2 linked regions of the Homo sapiens genome follow. The protein of the gene in region 1 interacts with the protein of each later gene in a pairwise test. Each region holds a gene or a part of one and is shown in the gene's direction. Other genes may lie near its edges.

Region 1 (16,866 bases):
TCTAGCCTGGGTGACAGAGCGAGATTCCATCTAAAAAAAAAAAAATGTATTCAGTGACTAATATCTCACAGATTCTATGCATGGAGTTAGAGATGCAAAAATCCAAAAATCCCCCATCTCATCCCTTAAGAAAGATCCATGGTCATGATGTAGTAGGTTCCTGAAAAATACTCAGGAAAAATACAGCTGTCTGCATTTTGTAATTTATAAATTAATTTATATGCAGCCAATTCTCGTGGTTGTTTGGCCACCAGTCATTTTCCCCACTCCCCCTTCTCTTTTTGAGAGACTTGGTTTTGTTCTGGTGAGTATCACTCCACCGGGTGACTCAGGGAATAGTCTCGTTAGTCAAAGACAATCATAATAACACCACATCCCCCTTGCCAGTGATTAGATGCTGCAGAGCTTCTGAGAAAATGAAACACACAGGGAGAGACCAGCCCCATCTCCTGCTGAATATAGTTGCACCTGCACATAGTCCCCAGAAGTGTGGGGCCATCTTGGTGCCAGCCCGAGGAAGAATTTAATACACAGAGGAGAGCAGAGCCAAGGGAATCCCAGAGAAGCAGGGGTGGCTCTAGTATGCCATGGCTGGCCCCTGTCCTACCTCTAGACCTAACATTTTATGAGGTAAAATGTCCTCTTATTGTTTAAGCCAATTTGGGCTGGAGCTTCTATTACTTGAAGTAAAAGGCAATAACTGATACAGTCTGCTTTGTCTCAGGAAGAGGATTTGGTATAAGAGGGAGAAGAGAGAAGGCAGATAGTATTACATGTTAGGTGATTCAGAAAGGCAAAATTCACATTCAGAGTAGGAGACCCAATATTGGTGATGCTGAAGCAAAAGGGCTTTGGGGTTAAGCCAAGTAATCAAAAACAAAAGTCTAAGTCCCCTATACGATCAGTTTCCTAATGGGGACTTACAACTGAACAGCAATGATCTCTTCTTCCTCCCAAAATAAATAAATGGAAAAAGTTAAGAAAGTCTTCCTCATCTAGCAATTTCCATGGCAAATTCTTTTGTGAGGGTCTAGAGCTTACCATGGTGTAGGGATGGCAAACTCCATTCATTTATTGACTCATTCATTCATTCAGCCAACAAATACATATCTGAGGAGATACCATGTGCCAGGCATATTAGTCAACAAGTCAGTCTCTGACCTAAAGGAGTATATATGTTTAGTGTGGGACAAAGGTGTTATAAATTTAGTGTGGGACAAAGGTGTTACAAATTTATTTATTGGTTAATTACAAATTATTGTAAGTGCTTTAAAGAAATAGAAAAGGGTGGTATAACAGAAACACTGGGGGCAAGGTCAGAGCTTTTAATTAAGAACACAGATTGAGGGAATCAGCCAGTCAACATGTGAATAAGTGACATTAAGTTGAGACCTGAAAGATAAATGGGAGTGCTGGGTGCAGTGGCACACACCAGTAATCCCAGCACTTTGGGAGTCTGAGGCCAGTGGATTGCTTGAGCTCAGGAGTTTGAGACCAGCCTGGGCAACAAGGCAAAACCCCGTCACTACAAATACAAAAAAAATTAGCCAGGCGCGATAGTGTGTGCCTGTAGTCCCAGCTACTCAGGAGGATGAGGTGGGAGGATCACCAGGAAGCAGAGGTTGCAGTAGGCCAAGATCACACTACTGCCCTCCAGCCTGGGTGACAGAGTGAGACCCTGTCTCAACAACAACAACAACAACAACAACAACAACAACAACAAACACATAGGAGTTAACCAGGCAGAACTGTGGGATGGGGGTGGGAGCACTCCTGACAGAGGAGGCTTGGTTGAAGAAATGAAAGCACACCAATGTGGCTAGAAGACACCAAGGGTGAGGTTGGGGGTGGGTGATGTGAGATGAATTTAGCGAGGAAGGCAGGGACCCAAACCTCTCTTGGCAATGCTAAGAATTTTGGATTTTACTAAGCGTGATGAGAAACCACTAAAAACTTTTAATCGAAGAAGGGACATGAAAAAAAGTTACACTTATAAGTGATCCCTACAGCAGCTGCACTAGAGTAGATAGGAGTTGGGCAAGAAAGTAACCAATTACTACTGCCAAAGTCCAAGAGATAAACGGGGCTTGGACTAGGGTGATGGCAATGAATAGAGAAATAAATGGATGAGAAATATTTTGGATGATGAGATAAATAGAAGGATTAAGGATGCTTCCTAAGTTTCAGTTTAAACAAATGTGTAGAAGGAAGGTGCCATTTACTGGGATAGGGAAGATGGCAAAGGAAGCAGGATTTGGAACAAGCAAAGATAAAGAGTTCAGTGTGTGATGCTTTTAAGATATCCCAGTGGAGATATTAAGTAGGTAGCTGGTTGTAAAATTCTGAAGAGAGGTCAGGACCAAAGGTAAAAATTAGGTGTCATCGACAGATAGACGGCATTTAAAGTCACAGGGATGGATGAGTTTATCTAGGGAGCTTAAGAATACAAATGAGAAGAATAGAAGTGAGACAAGAGAAGCCCGAGGAATTTCATACTTTAAAGGATAAGAGAGGCTGGGTACAGTGGCTCATGCCTGCAATATCCCAGCACTTTGGGAGGCCGAGGCAGGAGGATTGCTTGAGCCTAGCAGTTCTAGACCAGCCTGGGCTAATAGTGAGATATCATCTCTAAAAAAAAACATTAAAAAATTAGCTGGGTGTGGTGAGTGCCGGTGGTCCCAGCTACTCAGGAGGCTGAGGCAGGAGGAATGCTTGAACTTAGTAGGTCAAGGCTGCAGTGAGCTGTGTTTGTGCCACTGCACTCCAGCCTGGGCAACAAAGTGATATCCTGTCTCTAAATAAATAAAGGATGGGAAAGGAAGACCCACTAGTGGAGACTGAGTAGCCAACAAGTTTAGTTAAAACTAGAAGAGGTCTGCAATACTGAAAGATGAAAGTTTCCAAAAGGAGAAATGGTCAGTTGAATTGATTGCAGAGAAGAGAAAAATGTCGCTTGATTTCAGCACCATGGAGGTCACTGATTGCCACTGTAAGATTGTCAGGTGGATGGAGCTCTGCAAATACCGGAAGAATCAATTTATAGGATTCATTAGATTCAATGTTAGATTTTGAGGTTTTCTTCCCTGAGAGCTTCTGCTTTTTATTTGTTGTTGTTGCTGTTGTTTGTTTTTAAACAGGGTCTCACTCTGTGACCCAGACTGGAGTGCAGTGGCGCGATCAAGGCTCACTGAAGCCTCAACTTCCCAGGCTCAAGTGATTCTCCCACTTTAGCTCCCCTAGTAGCTGGGACTAAAGGCGCATGCCACCACGCCTAATTTCTTTTTAACTTTCTGTAGAGACACAGTCTCACTATGCTGCCCAGGCTGGTCTTTAACTCCTGGGCTCAAGGAATCCTCCCACCTCGGCCTCCCAGAGTGCTGGGATTACAGGTGTGAACCACTGTGCCTGGCTGGTTCTAACTGCTTATAAGGATGGTTATTTCATTATTTTTATTCTTTCTTAGACTCTCACTTTTTCCAAAAATGTAAATTTCCCTTTAAAAAATATAATAAAACTCTATCTTGCAAGTCCCACATAGGGTCCACTGGACCCTTTCATAACTTAACAGGATCTTGGTGATTCTGATTTCCTCTAGCTCCAGAAATTTTGCTATATCACTATCCTAGGGATTATTTCAACATTTTTCAGCAATTCCCAACTGTACAAGACAAGACAAAAATAGTTAAGGTGGGTGCTATAACAGAAGCACTGGGGACAAAAGTGAAATAAATCATCGCTATTAGATGATTCTTCCTTTATCTTATTGTAATGCCCAAAACACTGTATCATCTTTTAAGAGGGTAGAAAAAAAATCTGGAGATATTATTTTAATAGTATTTGTTGTTTTTTTTAAAGCTTTCGTTGATAAATATTCAGAATTTTTCATTTTTTCCCATAACGGCAAAGAGAAGAAAATTGATGAAAATATTTCTAATAATTAGAAAAAGCAGATGTCTAATGCAAAAAGACAGAGGACTCTATACTTTAAAGATGATGGTGAAATTTTATTTATTTAATTTTATTTTAGAGACAGGATCTTGCTCTGTTGCCCAGACTGGAGTACAGTGGTGTGATCATAGCTCACTGCTTCCTCGAACTCCTGGGTTCAAGTGATTCTCCTGCCTCAGCCTCTTAAGTAGGTAGGACTACGGGTATATACCACCATGCCCAGCTATTTTTTTTTTTACTTTTTGTGGAGAGAGGGTCTCATGCTGTTGCCCAGACTGGTCTTAAACTCCTGGGCTCAAGCAATCCTCTCACCTAGGCCTCCCAAAGTGCTGGGATTTATCGGTGTGAGCCATCGTGGCTGGCCTGAAACATGTAAGTGAAATCTCAGATTATGAGTCTTTAGATAATGATATCCTAGATACATTTTCTCAAACTCAAGAACTGACAATTCAACAACATATACCTAAGGATAAAAAGGAAATAGGGTATTCTCATCCAGTTTGACATTTAATAGGAATTACTTCCTTATTCAATACTTTGCAACAAGAACCTGAGCCATCCTAAAAAAGTGTGATATCTTGTCATCTTTCATGGTGTTGTGCATCCAATATACTTCATATAGTTTATAAGATAACAAATGATAAAGGCAGATGTATATATACAAAGGTGAAGGGAAGGAAATCTATAAGGAAGAGATGAAAAAATTCATTGGATTGCTAATTCTACTTGGTGTTTATAAATCTAAAAATGAAAATATTTTGCAACTAAGAAACAAAGAAAATAACTACTGTCTCTTCAACAAAATGATGAGCCATCAAAGTTTTCAAAAGCACTGCTTTTTGTTTATTCAAGTGCAAGCAGCACAAAGGTAATGATAAGTTAGAATCGTTAGAGATGTATTTGATTCTGGGTGTGGTGGCTCACACCTGTAATCTCAGCACTTTGGGAAGCTGAGGCAGGTGGATCACTTGAGGTCAGGAGTTCAAGACCAGCCTGGCCAACATGGTGAAACTCTGTCTCTACTAAAAATACAAAAAATTAGCCGGGCGTGGTGGTGGGTATCTGTAGTCCCAGCTACTCTGGATGGTTAGGCATGAGAATTGCTTGCACCCAGGAGGCGGAGGTTACAGTGAGGCAAGACTGCGCCACTGTACTCCAGCCTGGGTGACAGAGTGAGACTCTGTCTCAAAAAAAAAAAAATGTATTTGAAGCCTGGAATCAATATTTATAAGATGATTGTGTTCCTGGTTCATATATGCTAATTGATAAGTAGTCAGTTACGTTCAAAGAACACTGTCCATTTAGGGTAAATAATCCTTCAAATGCAGGAAAATATAGAATAAAAAACGGGTTTGCTGTACTGAAATTAAAAATTTTTTAAAGAATTATTTTTCACTATTCCTTTAGTCTTAGCTCTGTAAATAATTTGCAAAATCACTTAACAGTATGAAAAAACAGAACAGGACCATTGGTGACAAGTATTTTCTCTGGCATATTGAGAGATAAACAGATTGGCATTATGTGTCTCACATAACAAGCAATAAAGAGGACAGAAAACACGAACCTGCCTCAGCCTCTTATAGACTGGTCTATAAGAAAATAGAAATATTATCTCACCTAATGGAGAGTGTCAGGTTAGGGCAGAGGGATTGTGGCTCAATAATGCCATCAAGGACCCAGCTCGCTTCTATGTCTCTTTGCCATCTCCAGTCCTGGTTTCATCTTTAGGCTTGTAGCAAGATGGCATTAGACCTAGACATATAACATCCAAAGGAAGAAAAAAACCCACCTATCTCTCTCTCTCTCTCTTTCTATTAAGAGTGAGGAAACTTTTTCCAGAATTACTCCTTTTCCTCCAGCTCCTTTCTCTCTTGCCTCCTGTTAGGAATAAGGGTAACAGGTATTACATAGGCTACAAACGGTATCAATGACAGTCTAATTGCAGAAGCAGAACTAAAACAACTTACATAATATCCACTAATTGAGAACTGTCACCAGGACTCAGAATGGACCGGACTAAGTAAGTCAGCCCTTTACAACTTCCCCTTTCCCATTTTAGTGTTGTTCTGTCATCTCCAAGCATTCAGGATATTGTCTTATTCCCTGCTCCTCTTGACAGCTGCGTACAAGAACAGCCAGCTGGTATATTTTCCAAGATAGGGTGAGTGGGAAGAGGTGAATAAAGGAGATGTATGGAACTGGGCGATGGGCCACGTGACCAGTGTTGGAGACTGAGATTATGACAAGCCTCAGGGACCAGGCAATGACCAATGGATGATGGGCAAAAGATTGGATTTTTGTAGCGGCCTTGAGTAGCCAATAAAATAAAATAAAAATAAAAAACAAGAAGACTGGGAGAGCTGGCTAGAGCTGTCTCCCAGAACTTTTTTGGCTAGGATTTTTGTATACTTTAAAAATCCAAAGGAGGAGGTGTGGCCAGAACCAGGATGAGGAAGAATGTGATGCTGAGAGGAAGCACAGGGAGAAAGAGGGGAGAAGGGAAGCATTTTGGTTCCTTTTGTCTCCTTTAACTGAAGTCCTGGCTTTAATAGTTTAAAATACACACTCTTCCTTTATAGTTGCCTAGTCAAAACCAAAATTGAAGATGATGGCTAGAGCAGGTTATGATTTTTTAATTGCCTCTTTTGGATGATCTTGTCTATTTGGACTGGGTTGGAACTGAAAGAGTCCTAGGAAGTGAGGAATGAGGCACAATATGTCAAATTCCTCTTCTATATGCAGTTACAAAAGCTGCTAGGCTCATGAGGAACATGCAGATTTTAGTCTGGAGAATAAAGGACATTTTCTGACCAAGGATGGAGTAAGGAAAGGTGGTGAGTTGCTGGCCACAGTATGACCTGGGACTGTATCTGAAAGTCACAACGTATAAAGCCAATACCTTCTATATAGCATCCTGACCAACACTGGCAGCCCTATGAGGTAAAGGCCTTCAGCAAACAGAAATAGCAAAGTTGCAAATTAGGGTTCTGTGTACACTCAATTGTGCAAAAGGATGATTGCTCATCAGGATAAACACTTAATCCACCATTTTAACAGTAAAAGTCCGAAGGAAACAAATGACTAAGTTTCCATTTCTACCACCTTTCTCTTACCTTTGTGAAATTTCAGCACATTATTCACAGCTAGTTCCCAACCAAGTCCAGAAACTAACACAATTAAAAAAAGAAAATGCAAAGTAAAATAGGCCCAGAATAGGTTCTTTTGATTACTTATGTTTTTGGAAATATATTTTCCTTTTTGAGTCTCCAAGAGTCCTCCTCTCAACAAGTGTAAGAGAGCCCAGGTGAGTCACTGTTCACTACTCATGGAGAAGCTAGAAGAGGCATGGTTGGGGTCTTACTAACTTTATCTCTATTTCCCATCATCGGAAAAATTCGTGAAGCCCAACGCTCTAAAACATAGATTAAGAAGTTGCTTTGAGTCTGGTAACGTGTCCTACACTGGCTGTTTAGAGCCCTGCACCACCAAGGATTAAATTCCAAAGGGGACTGGGGTGGGACAGGGCAGGAAAGCGGACTCAAACACATGAACTCCTCCCTTCCTCAAACCAAATATCTGCTGCTGATATGCCTTGATTGACTGTTAAATATGTATTAGGAAAAACAATCCCTTGCTATAAAATATCTTAAGTTTCTAAATCTATGTAGTGAGTTCTGTGTGTGTGTGTGTGTGTGTGTGTGTGTGTGTGTGTGTATGTTTTAAAGGGGGGACTTAATATTTCAAATGCAACTTCTTATATAACCATGGTATGGTGGCCCAAGACGCCAAACAGAACAAATGATTTGGATAAACAGTTTAAATTTTGTGAAAGCCTGGAGGAATCGAATTTGGACATGGAGGAAACCTGACAAAACCTTGGGTGCTATGTGATTCAAATCACAGCCCACCGAAGCGGCCACCGCGCGTACCAAGCCTTCCCCCCTAGCATACGCCTTCTGTGAACGGGCTCTTGTACCTGAACAAAGCGAGGACCCAAGTTCAGGGGCTTTGTCTCTAAAGAACAAAGATCGGCCTAGCTGCATGCTCGCTGTGCGAAAGAACCCAGGCTCCGTGGGAACCCCACGCCACTCGCGGAGCTGCGCCCCGGCGGCCGCCCTCGCCCCTCGGGCCCCTTTAAGTGCCGCGCCTGCCCCCGTCCGCGTCCCCCGCGTGCCCGGAGTACTGGGCCGCCCGCCCGCTCCTGGCCGCACCTCCCACCTCCCGCCTCCCGCCGGGGTTACGTGAGCCCGGGGCGGGCGGCCGCCGGGCCAATGGCCGCCGCCGGGGCCGCCGCGCTCCTCCCGCGCCGCCGCCGCCGCCGTGGGGCTGCGGGCTCCTCCCGCAGGAGATAACTGTCAGCGCGCGAGGCGGTGGCGGGCCGGCTCAGTCATATGACCGGCAGCCGGCGGCTCCGGCGCCGAGCAGAGTTACTCAGTCGCAGCGGCCCCGCGCTCCCGCAAGGCTGGGCGGCCGCGCCGCCGCGATGGCCCCGCCACCGCGGCCGCCGCCCCCGGCTGCGCGCTGAGCCGCCGGCCCCCCGAGCGCCACGGCCGGAGCTGCGGCGGCGGCATCATGGCCCCGACCCTGCTCCAGAAGCTCTTCAACAAAAGGGGCAGCAGCGGCAGCTCCGCGGCGGCGTCTGCCCAGGGCAGGGCTCCTAAGGAAGGACCCGCCTTTAGGTGAGGGGGCGCCGGGGGGCAATTCTGGCGCGGGACCCGAGTTGGCTTCGGTGCTCGCCGGGGAGGGGACGGGTAGGGGAAAGGGAAGGGACTGTCCAGGACGGCGCTGCCTATCGCCGGCACCTGGTCCCGGGCTTGTCAGCGTGGACGCGCCTGATCCGAGTGTGGCTCCGGACCCTCCGTGACCCTTCCTCCCGCTCTTTCTCCACAACTCAGGGTCCTTCCCCATTTCAGAGTTCTCTTGTGTTCCTTGGGGTTCCCGGGCGTGCGCTGTGCTTGGCTGTGGCGACCGGAGATTCTCCGGTTATTGGGGTGAACCCCTTCCGGGCAGAGCCGCCTGGGCACCTCTGCGGGCCCAGCAAAGCTGTGAGCTGTCATTTTGAGGGCAGCTCCAACCTATTGTGTACGTGACAGTGTTTTGAAGTTCTGAAGGAGCAACAGTCACGAAAAAGGCATCTTTCTTCTTTCTTGCCATATATGACAAGCTCTCAAACGGATGAATGAAAGTATGTAATTTCCACATCATGTGGAAGGTTGATGCCGCATGATGTGTGGAAAGGGGGAGTAAGATGCAATTATGAAATTTCCGAGATTTCAATTGATCAAAGCTGATATGTATATTTAATAGATTTGATCTCTCGAACACATACCTTTGAATATTGATAGCATTTATGGAGAGCTTACTACCTAAAATGCTTTATGTTGATTTCTGTCGTTTACTTTTCTGACAATGCGGTGAGGTGGGTGCTATTATAATTCCCATTTTACAGGTGAGGAAACTTAAAGTCACAGATAACTTAGGCGGCTTGCCCAAAATCCAGCTGTCAGTGGTAGAGCCTGTGTTTTGACCCAAGCAGTTTGACCACAGATTCCAGTCTTTAAAATCCCTATGCTATTCTGATTTCAAGGGCTAACTTTTAAAAGACGCCTTAAAATGTCCTATATTGCCTTTGAGCACAGGTATGTTGAGAAGTTTATTTAACAATTTTTCAACACATTTTAAAATTGAGCACCAACTCCCAATTCTGACACTATGCTAGGTGCTTTTTGGCCAAAATGTCTTGCAAAAACAGTTCACTGTTAAACAGATCTAGACCCAGTATAATAAACCTTTAAAAGTTTCAAGTGAAACTTTGAAATAAATTCTGGATTAAGTTTTATGTTCTAGATTTTGCTTTTCTTGAATTCCATCATTTAAAACAGTCTCTCACTGTGGTCATGTGAAAATTAAACGTGTGTGTGTGTGTGCACGCGCGCTCATGGAAGGCATATTGTGAGGACCTTAAACTCCCCAAGTTAAATTCTCATGTTTTCTTTAGGCTAACAAGCCTTATAATTTGAGTGGGAATTCTATGCCTTTTGTTAGGCTGAGTATTAGTGATGCCATGTACCTTCTCAGAATGGTAGAATTACTTCGGACCTAAGGTGTGTAATTTCGTCCCTTCCCTCCCTGTAACCCAGACTCCATCAGGGGTACAAAGCCTGGAGCGGAAGGAGCATGTTACAGGTGTCTGTACTTTGACAGCTCTTGCCAAGGACATTTAAAGCCATTTGAATGCAGGAGGAGATAGTGGCGGTTACTTGTCATTGTTTTCTGTGCTCCTTGCCTAATTGCCTACCACCATTTCCGCTATCCACAAGTTTAACTGAGTGTATTTGAACAAAAAAAATATGGCTATATTTAGGGTTTTGGGCCATATTAGGGAAATTGATTCCCACTTCATGGGAACATTTTCAGTAGTGTTCTGACTTCTCATTTGTGTATAATGAAGAACAGAAAATCGTGCCAAGTACGGTCTTTTTTTTGACCTCATTGGGATTTTCTACAAGAATTTGAGATCGATGTTTTTGGAGAATTTGGGGATCCCAGTTGAACATCCTACTTGATGAGGGCCCCCTTCAATAGTGTCCCTGATAGAGGTCACCATGGAAAAGAAAGTAAAGTAGCAGATGTGAGCAAGGATGCTGGACGATGGGAACAAACCATCCTGTGCTCACCAGACTGACAAAGGAGACCCCAAGCAAGTCTTTCCTTTTGCTCTTTTCACCTGGCTTAATTCTAAGATGCTGTGTAGCTGGCCTGGGAAAAGCTTCCAGGAAAATTTTTCTCTCTACCTAAAAAATTGTGAACCTGTGTTTCATTTTACCCAGATTTTGCCAAATAGGAGTTGGTATGTACTTTGAGGGGAACAAGGTGCCTTATTGCAGGGCATTAGCTGCCCTTGGGAACTACCTTGTAGTTAAATAGAGTTTTAGAAGTGAAGCTAAAACCCTTAGATTAAAAATCGAGTATTCCTAACATGAATTTGTATTCTTTAGTGCATTTAAGTACAGGATGTAACTTGTTTATCTGGAGATTGAAAATTCACTGAGGATTCAGGTAGACTTTTGGGGCAGTTTTGTAGTGTATATGGGGGAGAATCTAAGATCCAACTTTTTGTTTGTTTGTTTTAGAGTTTGTATATCTTCTGTTTCCATGATGGACTTTCACTGGTTATTTTAAACTTCTCTTCTCAGAATTGTTTTGCCCTTGTTGTTAGTCTTTTTACTCTTGTGCACTTCCTAGTCCCTTCGCTGGGCTTATGACTGTTCTCATTCCTCCAGTTTTTACACACTTGATTAGAGAGGAAATCTGTTGTCCAATATAACTAGTTTATCTCACAGGTCATTTTCAGGACTTCATGTTTCCTGGCATTTCATCTAAAAACAGGATCATCATAGTCAAGATTTCTTCTGGAGTATTTCCTTTAGGATCTTGACAGAAAGCCCTTTTCATAGCTTTGAGGAAACAGGTTGCTAGGAAAACAAAAGGAATCACGATTGACCAAACTTACATGTTTGGGAGAAGTAGTCAGGAATGCTATATGATTATGGCATTTACATTTGAATAATGCTTCGTACCAGAAAAATAAATTAGGACAAAAAAAATGATGTGTACAGTGACTCAAGTCAGAAATAGAATTATGTTCTTGGTTACCTTGGATTTAAGGCCAGGATGTTTTCAAGCCACGCTATGTCCAGTGACTTACATGTGTGGTTCACGTTTGAAGCATTATCTTAAGGTTGTTCTTGTTGTTGTTGTTTTTTTCTCCATGTCTTTTGTAAATTAATGGAGCAGTTTCAAACCCCTAAAATGTGTATTTAGCAGGGAGGTGAAAAGACCTTGGGCTACCAGATGTTCTTTTATTTTGGAGCAGTTAAATGAAGTAGGGAAGCATATATATTATCTGGGATATGAAGAACAAGTGAAGGCATTGCAGCTGCTTGTTAGCTAGCTGTGTGAATGCCAGAGAAGAGTATACCTAAGGCCAAATGGCCTAGTAAGTGCTGATCCCCACTGTTTTGTTAGAACAAATTTAATCTGTTATAGAGTTAGTATAAGTATAATTTAATCCACTTATCACATAGCATCTGATGCCTCTGTGCTTGTGGCTTGGCGCTCTACCTGTATAAATCCAGGCAGGACACCCACGGTCTCACCTACTGGAGTTTACAATCTAAAGGACAACAGATTATACACTAAGATGAATAAAGAGCAGACAACACATTGGAAACTATAACAAACAGATAAACACTGATAAAGAGTAGATTTTTATATAAGCACAGAATTAAGAACTTACTTGCTGTTCTTGTGCTTGGAGTGACTAAGGGCCGGATTGTGATTTACTCTTCCCTCACATGGAGGGAAATTACACAGAAGTGCTTCCTCCGCTCCCACTAATAAGTCTCCAGATGCAAGTATTTCTAATGAGATTTGTTCTGAGGTAGGGTGGATAATATTTTGGAAAAAAACAGTTTTGTTCTAGTACACTCAACATTTTTAATGCCAATAATATAAAACATGACATATAAATAGCAGTTTTGATTTCTTTTGACTACTTTCTAAAAGAAAGTCTTTCTGTAGATTTTTCTTGCTTGCTGCCTTGGATCTATTGGCACACTCCTTACATCATATCTCCTTGTCCTGAAAGATACTATGCACTGGTTAGTGATTTTTTCAGAGGTGAAGAAGGGAACCCTTCCTTTGAATGCAGTGAGTTCTATTAAGAGCACTTGGAACACAGATTGAGGAAGCCATTGATTTAGCCCTGCCTCATGTACCATGTTGATGGGAGACCCAACAAGACTCCATTTCTCTGATCCTCAGCTTTGTCATTTGTAAAGTGACAGCATCAGACCTATGTAACAAAGTTGTGGTAAGGAAGTAATGAGCTTGAAAATCTTTTGAAAAGAATAACATGCAATACAAACTGATTTTAAGTATTACTAAGCATCTTTTTTTAGGTCATGGAGTTCAGTATTATTCCTGTTGAGGCTTTACGAAAATGGAACCATTTTTCAGAGGCTGTTTTCTTTCTGTAGATGAGAGTTGAGACAGTGCTGAATTGAACTGTTTTCACTTGCATATTAGTTTTTTAACCTTGATGTAGTCATTCATGAAACAGAGACCTTAAGTTTTCAGAGGGGTCTTAAAGATGTTCAGCGGACACTCACTCAAACCTGGTAGAGGTGACGGGGTGTCAGAAAGATTCTTAGAAATATGGTGTGTTTGTTTTTTCAAAGTTATTTGCAAGTTTTTATTATTAAGAATAAAATTGCATTTAGCCAAAAAAGGAAATTGGTTAAGCAAAATGATATAGTCACACAATGGATGACATTCTATAGCATCCAAATCATAATTTTATACACAGACACACAAAACAAAAGAAAAATGTTCTCAATAGAAGAAGTAAAAGCAACTCTAATAGCCTGACTTCACCACTGTGCAATCTATGCATGTAACAAAATTACACTTATACCCCATAAATTTATATAAATTTTAAAAAGTAAAAGCAAGTTATAAATTTATGTGAAAAACATTTAAAAATAGGAGCGATTATGCATGTGCAGAATAGGCCAGCAACACTCTACACCAACATATTATAACAGTGGTTGCCAAGAGGTAGGTGAAAATTTTATTTTAATTTTTTGTGTTTTATTCTTGTTGGTATTTTTGGATTTTGCTCTAATGAATTTGTGTTACTTTTGTGATTTGGATTATTTTAAACCTAAATATTCTAGATTATTTAACTATTAGATTATTTAACTATTTAAGATAACTTAAATAGCATTTAGCATATTCTACACTGTGAGGGAATAGAGTAAGGATAATGTTTATGGAGAAATCTGATTTGAATAAATTTCATAGAATCTTTCTTCTTCATCAAAATAACTGTTAGCTCCTATTATTAAAAGTAATATGTTTGTTATGAGGTTTAATGTATTTAAAATCTAAACTCATTATAAACCTCAGAGGCTAAGTTAATTGGCAGTGTCAATAATGATAGGAGATATGTATGTGCAAAATGTTTACTAGTTTGACAGGGTCGCTACTTCACCTGAGCTTCAGAGCCCAGTGTAGTCTTCCTGGGGGCTCAGAGTACAGTTAGGAGCTGCATGCAGCTCAAGCTTTATTTGAAATATGTTTAGAAAAGACTGACACAGCCCTTTGGATTTTGAGGGAATGTGGATAAGAGGCCTGGATTAGATGTTTTAAAAGCTAAAACATGTAGTTATAATTTTAAGTCCTGAAATTTGAATTTGTTGTATTATGCATTATTATTTGATTTAGTAGGTGGTACTAAGAGATGGACGGAGGCATGTGGTCTTTTAATGCATGGAGTATATAGCTCCAAAAAGAGCATTGGTTTTTGTTGTTGCTTTAGGTTGTGTTTCTCGTGGTTTGCCTGTAAGGTCAGCCTAAGGAAGCTACTTTGCCGTTGTGTTTCCTTGGAAAAGGAAGCTGTAAAAGATTGTCCTTGCCGTCATGAAATACTTTGGCTGCCAGCATGAACTCCTGGTGTGTGAATCTGATTTGGGAACTGGTAATGTGCTTTATTTCTCCAGCCACTGTTTTTCTTGGTGTGGGTGAAAAGGAACAAATGTTTTGTACTGATTGTACAAGCCCCTTGCTTAGTGTGAATTGTTAGGCCTGGACTATGAGATCATATACTTGGCTGTAAAAGTAAGTCTTTCCTTTGGATGTAAGAGTGCTGAAATATTTGGTGAGTTCCTACTTACCAAGCATTCTTTATCTCAGATTTATGAAAAATGATTATTATGTAAAAAAAGGAAAAACAGGATGGACTTTTCCAGCTAACTGGGCATGTAACAGTGATTTCCCTCAACCCCACCCCATCTGTAAATGGAACATCCATGACTCACTACTCATGGCCACACAGACACTTTTGTAACCAGTGCTTGAATGGGAGGGTGGGATGGGGATGGAAGGAGATGGGCTGGCACCCCACTTGTGTTCAGCCAGAATCTGTCCAGCTGCCTTTATAATGGACTTCTGAAAAGGACAATGTGCCTTCTCATGCATCATGCTACATATTTTTTTTTCCTTATTGCACTTTCTGTTTGTGCCAGAATAATACAATATATTAAGTGCAATAAAATGTAGCCATTAATACTATAATGTTGTGGATAAATGTTGTATAGCAGAGTACTCTTTCTGTTATATAAGATTTTAGTATTAGCATGAGTTTGGATCCCCGATTATCATATTTCTGTCTCCTGAACTGTGTGCCTTCATTTCTAGGAATTATTTTTCTAGTTATTTGTCCCTGTAAACTTGTTTAATTTGTAGATTATACTTTAGAATTTGTGTCCATCATAGTGCTATAAGAGATTTATATATTGGTTTATGAAGATGATTTTATTACCACACCTAAGACTTTTTAATCATAAATAAGAGATTTCTGTATTTGATATATATCTTTAAATAAATGATTGGTGTTTGGTTATGTGCTGATGTCTAATTGAAAATGACAACCAATTCATGCAGGGTGTCTAAGTGAGAATGAACACTGAGGCAGTAGGAATTCATCCCAAAAGCTGAGGGGGGCTAATTAAGAACCTACATATCTGGTGGGGACCTCAGCCTGATTCCCAGTAAGGATAGTTGCATGTTGTCATAGCAACTCTTTCTTCACAAGTTGAAGACAAGTTAGACGTTAACCTGCACATTCCTCAAGAGATGAAACAGGTGTTGATTTAGGATGTGTTAGGAAGCAGCAGCAAATTCACCAGTTCAATTGATTCTGGCTTTAACACCTTATAAATACTTCAGACTGCCAACTCTCTCTCTGATATGCCTGGAAAATTGGACATTTTTTGTCTTATAGTCAAAACCTTTGGGGTTATGGGGGGAAAAGTATGTTATCATTCATTTCTTCATTAGCTATCCTCATTTACTCAAGTTCTTTTATAAAATATGATTTAAAGATAGTTACAAAAATACCTTTTAAATTCAATGCCACAAAGTCTTTTAAAGCATACATTTGAAATAACTGTAAATGAAACAAGAAAACGTACATGTGATAGTTACAGCATGGCTGTGAGAGTTCGTCTAAATCCTAGCCTTGCCATTGTGTCTCTGCTTTTAATGCAGTGCTTGGCAGGAAGTTGGCGTTTAATAAATACCTGTTGAATGAATGAATGAATTCAAGAGTTTTGAACACTGATGATCCTTAAAGAGTCTCTAGTATTCCAGAATCTGATCTCTTGAAATATTTCTTGATGTTTCTAGCATGCGTTGTGACATTTTAGAAAATGAATCTTGTTACAGACAACTCAAAGAAATTTCCTCCTTTTTGTCAATATTAGTGAATTATTTTCCTGGTATCAAAATGATAGGGTAAAAGTGCTCTAACAGTTGATTGACCTGCACCCCCACCTCCCTAAAAAAACCTTTAAGAAGACACTTGCCTAAGTAATATATCAGAGATCCAGTTATGAAATCCCACAGCTGTCAGAAATGACCTACTGAAAAATGATTTAAATATTTATGAAGCTATGAAATTGTTAGCTGTGGGTTGATGATGTAGAACTCTTCTCTATATACTTTTCAGATTCATTTGAATTCTTGTATGGCTTGGTAAAACTGAAATACATTATGGAATGAAATGAGCAAATTGGTTCTCTCAAATTTAAGATAATAGTACACTTAATTGTGAAAACAATATTGATATTCTGAACCCTGCGAAGACTATATTTGCATGTTAAATGAAGTAAGCACTTTAGAAAAAAGATGGAATCATCTCTGCTTTCCATGTATGATTTTTCCATTTGAGAAACTAATTTAGAAATGGATTTGCGAATCTGACATGTTCTTTAAAAAGAATGTGCCAGACTAACATATCATTAATGGTGGCCTACCCTGTGTGAGGAGGTGAGCCATGAGTAAACATTTTCT
Region 2 (8,137 bases), on another chromosome or scaffold:
TACACTTGCCTGCCACCACGCCTGGCTAATTTTGTATTTTTAGTAGAGATGGGGTTTCACCATGTTGGGCAGGCTGGTCTTGAACTCGTGACCTCAGGTGATCCACCTGCCTCGGCCTCCCAAAGTGCTGAGATTACAGGCGTGAGCCACCACACCCAGCCTATGTTAACTTCTTTAACCCACTCTGCCTCCCTGCCGTGGCCTTCATGTTTGTATTCACACACTCCAGCCTGTCCTGGAGGCGGGTCCCCAAAGTCCCGTGCTCCCAGTGGAGTTTCCTGCTCCCAGGACCCCCAGTGTTCTCGGTGGGTCACTCCATCAGCTCTTGAACTCTCGGGAATTAGTGTGAGTTTTCCCCAGTGGGCCACTTGTTTTTGTGGAGGACCTGGGTCAGGGCCCAAAATCAGGGGTGGGTGTTGGACCTGCCACTGCAGTGCAAACGGGAACCCAAGCTTGTTCTTTTGGTTCTGCTGCAGAAGCAGAGGACGTGTAAGAGCTGCATCCATTGCTGGAATTGCCTGTAAGGAATGGGGGATGGGGAGCACCTCAGACCTGGGAAGGAGGGCACCGCCAGGCTGCTGGGGCATCCTTGAGCTGGTTTTGGGGTTGCCCATGGAGGAATCCTGCGACACTGTGGGGAGAGTCTTGCTGACGCACTGCCGCACAGTCCTGGGGTAGGAGCAGCTCCAGGGCGCACAGCCTCAGCATCGGAGTGGCTGTGGCTGCAGCGGGGCAGCGGGGCAGCAGTGGTGAGCTGCCACACCAACATCCTGGAGCTTGGTGCTCGCCCTATTTATTGGGCCTCTCGCCTGTGGCTGAAGCCCCTTCCAGGTGTTAGTTCAGAACCAATGATGGAGGCTGGGGGCAGTGGGTAGTGTTACCACCACAGAGCCCCTCACCCTCGGGCCAGCTACTTCTCACTTCAGCCTCAGTTTTGTCTTCTGTAGAATGGGGCTTCTCACTGACATTATCTCAGAGGGTGGCACTTGGGATTGAATGAGATGGAGCATGCAGGGCCCTTTTCATGTTACCTACTTCGTAAGTGCTCAGCAAATACCTGTTAGGAACAACCTCTGGCAATCTCTGCGATCTCTGTGTTCTGTTTTCCTCTTTAGGAAACATTTAAATCTTCAGATAAGTATAAATCTGGAAGCCAATTATTTTTTTACAAAAATAGCTTGAGTTTTCCGAGCTCAGATTTGCATAAACCTAAGAGAGTTTGTCGCCCTGCTTCCCAACTAACAGATTTACTTTTCCTTTTCATGGACAGGGCTGCCGGTCACTTGCTGCAGGGCACCCGGGATATATCAGCCATGATAAAGAGACCTCCATTAAATACGTCAGCCACCAGCACCCCAGCCACCCCCAGCTCTTCAGCATTGTCCGCCAGGCCTGTGTCCGGAGCCTGAGCTGTGAGGTGAGCCTTGTGGCCACAGAGCCTGTCTCTGTGGGAGCCCACATGCTCCCAGGTGCTCTGGGTGGGCTCGGAGCCAGCATTGCACAGGGAGGCAGGCACTGGTCCTCTCTCAGGGCGGACCCGCAGATCAGCACAGCACAGGGTACAGGACGCCTCCCTTGTCCAGAATTGCGGGAGGAGTCATGTTGGACTTGCTGAGCATTTTCTGATTGAGTGCTAGCTTTTGCACTTTAAGCACCGAACTTTTATTATTTGTCCTTTCTTTATTATTATTGTTTTCTTTTTTCCTTCTTTTGTGTCAGGGTCTCGCTCTGTCGTCCAGACTGGAGTGCAGTGGTGCCGTCATGGTTCACTGCAACCTCAAACTCCTGGGCTCAAGCGATCCTCCCGCCTTAGCCTCCCAGGTGGCTGGGACCACTGGTGTGTGCCACCATGCTCAACTGGGGTTTGTTTTTTGTTGTTGTTAAGACAGAGTCTCACTCGGTTGCCCAGGCTGGAGTGCAGTGGTGCAATCTCGGCTTACTGCAACCTCCACCCTGGGTTTAAGTGATTCTTCTGTCTCAGCTATCCTGAGTAGCTGGGACAACAGGCGTGTGCCACCATGCCCGGCTAATTTTTTGTATTTTTAGTAGAGAAGAGATTTCACCATGTTGGCCGAGCTGGTCTTGAACTCCTGACCTTGTGATTTGCCCGCCTCGGCCTCCCGAAGTGCTGGGATTACAGGTGGGAGCCACTGTGCCCCACCTTTTTAAAATTTTTTTGTAGAGATGAGGTCTCAGTATGTTGCCCAGGTTGGTCTCGAACTCAAGCAATCCTCTGGCTCATCCTCCCAAAGCACTAGGATTACAGGTGTGAGCCGCCATGCCCAGCCATGTGTGTCTATTCTTGATGGATGTATTCCTAAGATAGGAAGCATTTCTAGGTTAGGTGGTTCATTGCATCAACATCACCTTTTTTTATTATCTCAGTCCTCATTCCAAGTCTCAGTGATGATCCCGTGCTGCTCTCAGCCTGCTGAGGTGTGGATGATTTCTTCCTAAACTACGTCGCTGCTGCTGTTGCTCTTGACTCTGAGCTCAGGTCTTTGTTACAAAGAATTCGTCGTTCAGTTACTAAACTTCCTTGTCATTGGTGTCCACCCAGTTCGACACACCAAGCTCCCTTACTGTTCTCATTCAGTGTGGCTGTGTGCCTGCCCTCAACTGTCCTCTCCTTTTAATTTCCTACCGCTGGTCTGCTAGCAGGCAGCTCGGCATGTCTGTTAGAATTGTGTGTTAAGGAAGAGTAAGTATGTAATGAGGAGGGACTGAAATCCTCTTATAAGAATAAAGTACGTGGGGCTGGGCATGGTGGCCCACTCCTGTAATCCCAGCCCTTTGGGAGGCCAAGGCCGGCAGATCACCTGAGGTCAGGAGTTCGAGACCAGCCTGGCCAACATGGTGAAACCCCCTCTCTAAAAAAAATACAAAAAAATTAGCCAGGCGTGGTGGCACACTCTTACAATCCCAGCTACTCAGGAGGCTGAGGCAGGAGAATTGCTTGAACCCAGGAGACGGAGGTTGCAGTGGGCCAGGATCACACCACTGCATTCCAGCCTGGGTGACAAGAGCGAGACTCCATCTCAAATAAAGAAAGAAAGAAAGAATAAAATGTGCGGATTTCAGTGCAGGGAGAGTGCAGTGGCTGCTCTGACCTGCTGGTTCTTCTGCATGCTCCAGGTGAGTAAGCTGGTACATTTGAGTCTGGGAGAGGTGTGACATATGCATGGGAGTTATTTATGGCTCAAGGTGGAAGAAAAGCAATAAGCCTTGTTACCGGCCCTTGCAGTCCACAATGACAAGTGTTGTTGGAAGCTTGATCACAGGAGCAGAAGAGTACAGTCTTCGGCTCTCATGGCCCCCACTGTGCCACTCTCCCCGTTATTAACGCTGGCTGATTTGTGCCAGCTGACTCTGAAAAGTCTGAAGAAGAGGCTTTGATTTGGTGTCACTAAGCGAGGAAAGGGCTGTCTGAGTCGCCGGTGTCCCTCCAGGTCTGCCCTGGCCGTGAAGGCCCCATCTTCTTCGGAGATGAGCAGCACGGCTTTGTGTTCAGCCACACCTTCTTCATCAAGGACAGCCTGGCCAGGGGCTTCCAGCGCTGGTACAGCATCATCACCATCATGATGGACCGGATCTACCTCATCAACTCCTGGCCCTTCCTGCTGGGGAAGGTCCGGGGAATCATCGATGAGCTCCAGGGCAAGGCGCTCAAGGTGAATTCAGAGATGAGGTGCCGGGGCGGCAGGGGGCCCTGCACTGCATGAGCCGCTCTGTGCTGAGGTTGAGGCCTGGAGACCGCGTGGCGTCTTCCCCTCTGCTTACAGCCAGTGCACTGTGTGAATTGTAGTCTCTTGGCTTCAGAGCTGGAGGTCGTGAGGAGCCTCCCAGGCCATCCCGCCTGCTTTGCTGGTCTCTCTTGTGCCCGTTGTCCTGGTTCTCGCTCAGCTCTGGTTTCTTTGCTGCAGTCAGACCCCTGGTGTCTTTGTTTCCTCTGGCCTTCATCTCAGGGATGTCTGTTAATCCCATTGAGTTGCACCACCGAATGTAGGCCTCCAGCTGTGGAGATGCAGCTCAGGCCAGGCCAGGCCAGGTCGTGCTCTGGTAACAGCCTCGGATCTCAGCACCTTCAAGCCATAGGGCCTGTTTCTTACTCATGGTGTGTGCATTGCAGGAGAGTGGGGCTCTGCTTGCTGTGGTCGTCCTGGCAGGCAGAGCGGCAGCCATATGAAAATGCTTCCCCTAGGCTGGGCGCAGTGGCTCACGCCTGTAATCCCAGCACTTTGGGAGGCCAAGGCGGGCAGATCACCTGAGGTCGGGAGTTTGAGACCAGCTTGACCAACATGGAGAAACCCCGTCTCTTCCAGAAATACAAAATTAGCTGGGCATGGTGGTGCATGCCTGTAATCCCAGCTACTTGGGAGGCTGAGGCAGGAGAAACGCTTGAACCCATGAGGCAGAGGTTGTAGTGAGCCGAGATCACACCATTGCACTCCAGCCTGGGCGACAGAGTGAGACTCCATCTCAAAAAAAAAAAGAAAGGAAAAAATGTTGCTCCTTCTGCCCTCCAGAAGCACAGATGGTGCTGAGGGCCTTGTTTGTCTCAGCTCATTGACCAGAGCCAGTCACGTGTGCCTTAGCCAAGTAGTGCACCCAGAAGGGGAGGTGGAGACAGGTGGGGAGCAGCGCAGATGGCCACTCACGAGAATCCCCCTGGGTGCCTTGGGTCACTCATTAGGAAGGGGACAGGAGAAGCTCAACCGATTTCTGTTCTCGGATAGCTCCTGATGTAGCCGGGGCAGAGCTATGCTGTTGGGAATGATTGGACTGGTGGCACTTTGTGTGCTCTGCATGGAGAGAGTATAGTGGGACTGATCCTCCAGGAGTCAGGTCCTGGAGTTGGCTGTGAACGAGTAGGGGTCCGAGCTGCTGGCAGCTTTGGCTTAAAGAGGCCATCCCTTCCCTTTGCATTTCAGGTGTTTGAGGCAGAGCAGTTTGGATGCCCACAGCGTGCTCAGAGGATGAACACAGCCTTCACGCCATTCCTACACCAGAGGAACGGCAACGCCGCCCGCTCGCTGACATCGCTGACAAGTGATGACAACCTGTGGGCGTGCCTGCACACCTCCTTTGCCTGGTAACGGGCGTCTCTGCTTTTGGCATATCTGTTAGGATAGAGCAGTCACGATACATTGGTTGGCTTGTCCATGGATTTGGGAGAACAGTCCTTAGCCGTGTTTGCTTGCTGCCTCTGTGAGGAGCACTGGCCTGTGGGCACTTGTCAGTGAGCACAGATCTGGGCTGGGAGTCCTTGTTCTGTAGGCCTCTTCCCCTGAGTGTGCTGAAAACATATTGATGTGGAACTCACTTCTTCCTGGGTTCAAGTGATTCTCCTGCCCCAGCCTCCCAAGTAGCTGGGATTACAGGCGCCTGTCACCACACCCAGCTAATTTTTTTATTTTTGGTAGAGACGGGGTTTCACCATGTTGGCCAGGCTGTTCTCAAACTCCTGACCTCATGTGATCCACCTGCCTCAGCCTCCCAGAGTGCTGGGATTACAGGTGTGAGCCACCGCGCCCAGCCTTTTTTTTTTTTTTTAAAGCAAATCTGAGTCGTATCATTCCAGCCATAAATATAATCACAATACTGTGATCATGTCCGACAAAACGGACAGACTCCTGAGTGTTCTCCAGGCTGCAAGCCCTTGTGCAGTTTACCTTTTGTCTCACAAGTGACTGCATTGGCATCGGAGCAGCGCCCCAAGTCTCTCTGGTTTAGAACAGCTCCCCCTTGCATCCCCTCCCCTCCAAGTTCCTCCCATCCATCTATTGAAGGACCTTGGTCGTTGACTTGTGGAACTGCCTGCATGCGGGATCTGGCTGGTTGTGCCCTGCTGGTGTTCTTTTATACCCATTTTTTCTTTAAACTGGTAGGATCAGGGGCTGGGTGAGCGTCAGGTTTGCTTTTTCCTTTGGCGAGAACGCTCATAGCTGGTGCTGTGTTCTCCAGGCTCCTGAAGGCGTGTGGCAGCCGGCTGACCGAGAAGCTCCTGGAAGGTGCTCCGACCGAGGATACCTTGGTCCAGATGGAGAAGCTCGCTGGTGAGGCAGGGGTGCTGTTGCCGGGGCCTTGGCCCGGATGGCCGTGGGGCGGTACCAGCTGTCTGCTCTCCTGGCAGGAATCGCTGAGGGAGGGAAACGCGGCTCTGAATCAGCCCAGAACGAGCCTTCGGGAAGCTCACCCTCCGATCTCGGTGTGATTGTTGTGATTGTTGTGATTTCCTGTCTCGTTTGCCTTGACCGCCATGTGAAAGAATCTGTTCCCCAGCTAGGTGGGGAAAATTCACAGGTGGGCTGTCTGTAGAGAGAACTGGCTGATTAAAGGCTTCTCGTCCCGATTTTGTGATAGCCAAGTGCTTGGCCTGGTCGACGGTCTTTGCTCCTTTACAAATAAAGTGTTCTGTTTCAGTTCGTCCCAAGTTTTCCATGAAGGGCAGTGGTTCCCTGACCTCCCAGGTGCCTGGGCTTCCCCAGGTTCCTGATCTGGGGCTTGGGGCCCTGTGTTTGGGGATCGTGGCACTGTGTGCACCAGCCTGGAAGCACTGGGCCAGTCTTGGCCAAGCTTTCCATCAGGGATGATTTGATCTTGGTGCTACAGGTCTGTGGTACGACCATTGTTCCACACCACATGTCATTAATAATGCTTCCCATGCTTCTGCTTGCAAATGACCAGCCTTCCAAACAGCCAGAGCTGTTTCGAGGTGTTTCTGCAGGCAGGTGCAGGCGTGCCCTCAAATAAGCTTTGCCAATGGAGTCTCAGCAAGAGCAAAACCTGGTCAGGAAAGACAAAGCCTGGGAATCCACCCCCATGCCCTGCAGGTTGGCTGGCCCTGGAGCCATTTATTATAGTGCTAATCATGTTTCTAGGCAGGTGCAGATGGCAAGGGCAGTGTCTTGGTGAGCTTTTTAGCACGAAGAGCCAGGTCTGTCGAAGCCTTTGTGAGAGCTGGAAACGCAGGTGTGCTGGGCATGCGCAGTATGGGGTTTCGGGCTCAGGGCTTGCCCTTTGGCATCAGACAGACCTGGCTTCGCATCCTGGATTTGCTTCTGACGTGCACCCTTCCCTTTGGGTCTCGTGATGTGAAATGGAGATGTTGTCATTTGTGAGGGCTCCATGAAGTTTCGTTGAAATGACAAATACTAATTTCTTCATCTGTGAAATGGAGATAATAGTGCTGACCTCAGAACAGCTGAGAGGACTAAATGAAATGATGTTGGATGTAGCCATAAAGAACGAAGTCAGGCACTGGTGCACGCCTGGAATCCCAGCTCTTGGGAGACCGAGACAGGTGGATTGCTTGAGCTCAGGAGTTTGAGACCAGCCTGAGCAACATAGGGAGGTCCAGTCTCTACAAAAAATATGAAAAGTAGCTGGGCGTGGTGGCGCATGCCTGTAGTCCCACTACTTGGAAGGCTTCGTTGGGAGGATCACTTGAGCCCAGAAGATTGAGGCTGCAGTAAGCCGTGATCGTGCCACTGCATTCCAGCCTGGGCAACAGAGCGAGACACTGTCTCAAATAAAAAAGATGGGAATAGTAGACACTGGGGGCTCCAGAAGGAGGGAGGGAGGGAGGAAGGGGAGGAAGGGCTGAAATGCTTTCTATTGGATACTATCTGGGCATATTACTTCCTGTGGTTCACTGTCTGGGTGACAGGATTCATAGAAGCCCAAACTTTAGCACCACGCAGCATACCCTTGTAACAAAGCCGCACACGTACGCCCTCAAGCTAAAACAAAAGTGGACCGGGAGGCCGAGGTCGGGGGATCATGAGGTCAGGAGTTTGAGACCAGCCTGGCAGATAACGGTGAAACCCCGTCTCTACTAAAAATACCAAAAAAAGTTAGCCGGACATGGTGGCAGGTGCCTGTAGTCCCAGCTACTTGGGAGGCTGGGGCAGAAGAATCGCTTGAACCCAGGAGGCGGAGGTTGCAGTGAGCCGAGATTGCGCCACTGCACTCCAGCCTGTGCGACAGAGTGAGACTCCGTCTCAAAAAAAAAAAAAAAAAAAAAAGTGGAAAAAAAAGAAACAACGTGTAGATCCTCGAGAACTGTGGCCGACTGGGTGTGTTCCGTAGACACGCTGTTGGCATTTTTCTTACTGATTTGAGTTTTCTCACCAGC

Evidence for each region.
Region 2: the proteins of FNIP2 (region 1) and FLCN interact in binary tests that used the Homo sapiens proteins (3 or more experiments, as listed by UniProt).

What each region holds. Positions count from the first base shown.
Region 1 is NC_000004.12:158,760,693-158,777,558, forward strand, and holds the start of FNIP2 (folliculin-interacting protein 2), read left to right. Parts: upstream 1-8,333; 5' UTR 8,334-8,520; coding exon 8,521-8,627; intron 8,628-16,866.
Region 2 is NC_000017.11:17,219,456-17,227,592, reverse strand, and holds part of FLCN (folliculin), read left to right. Parts: intron 1-1,270; coding exon 1,271-1,417; intron 1,418-3,081; coding exon of another isoform or gene 3,082-3,135; intron 3,136-3,449; coding exon 3,450-3,671; intron 3,672-4,931; coding exon 4,932-5,092; intron 5,093-5,964; coding exon 5,965-6,056; coding exon of another isoform or gene 6,057-6,214; exon of another isoform or gene 6,215-8,026; intron 8,027-8,137. UniProt on the Homo sapiens protein: Multi-functional protein, involved in both the cellular response to amino acid availability and in the regulation of glycolysis.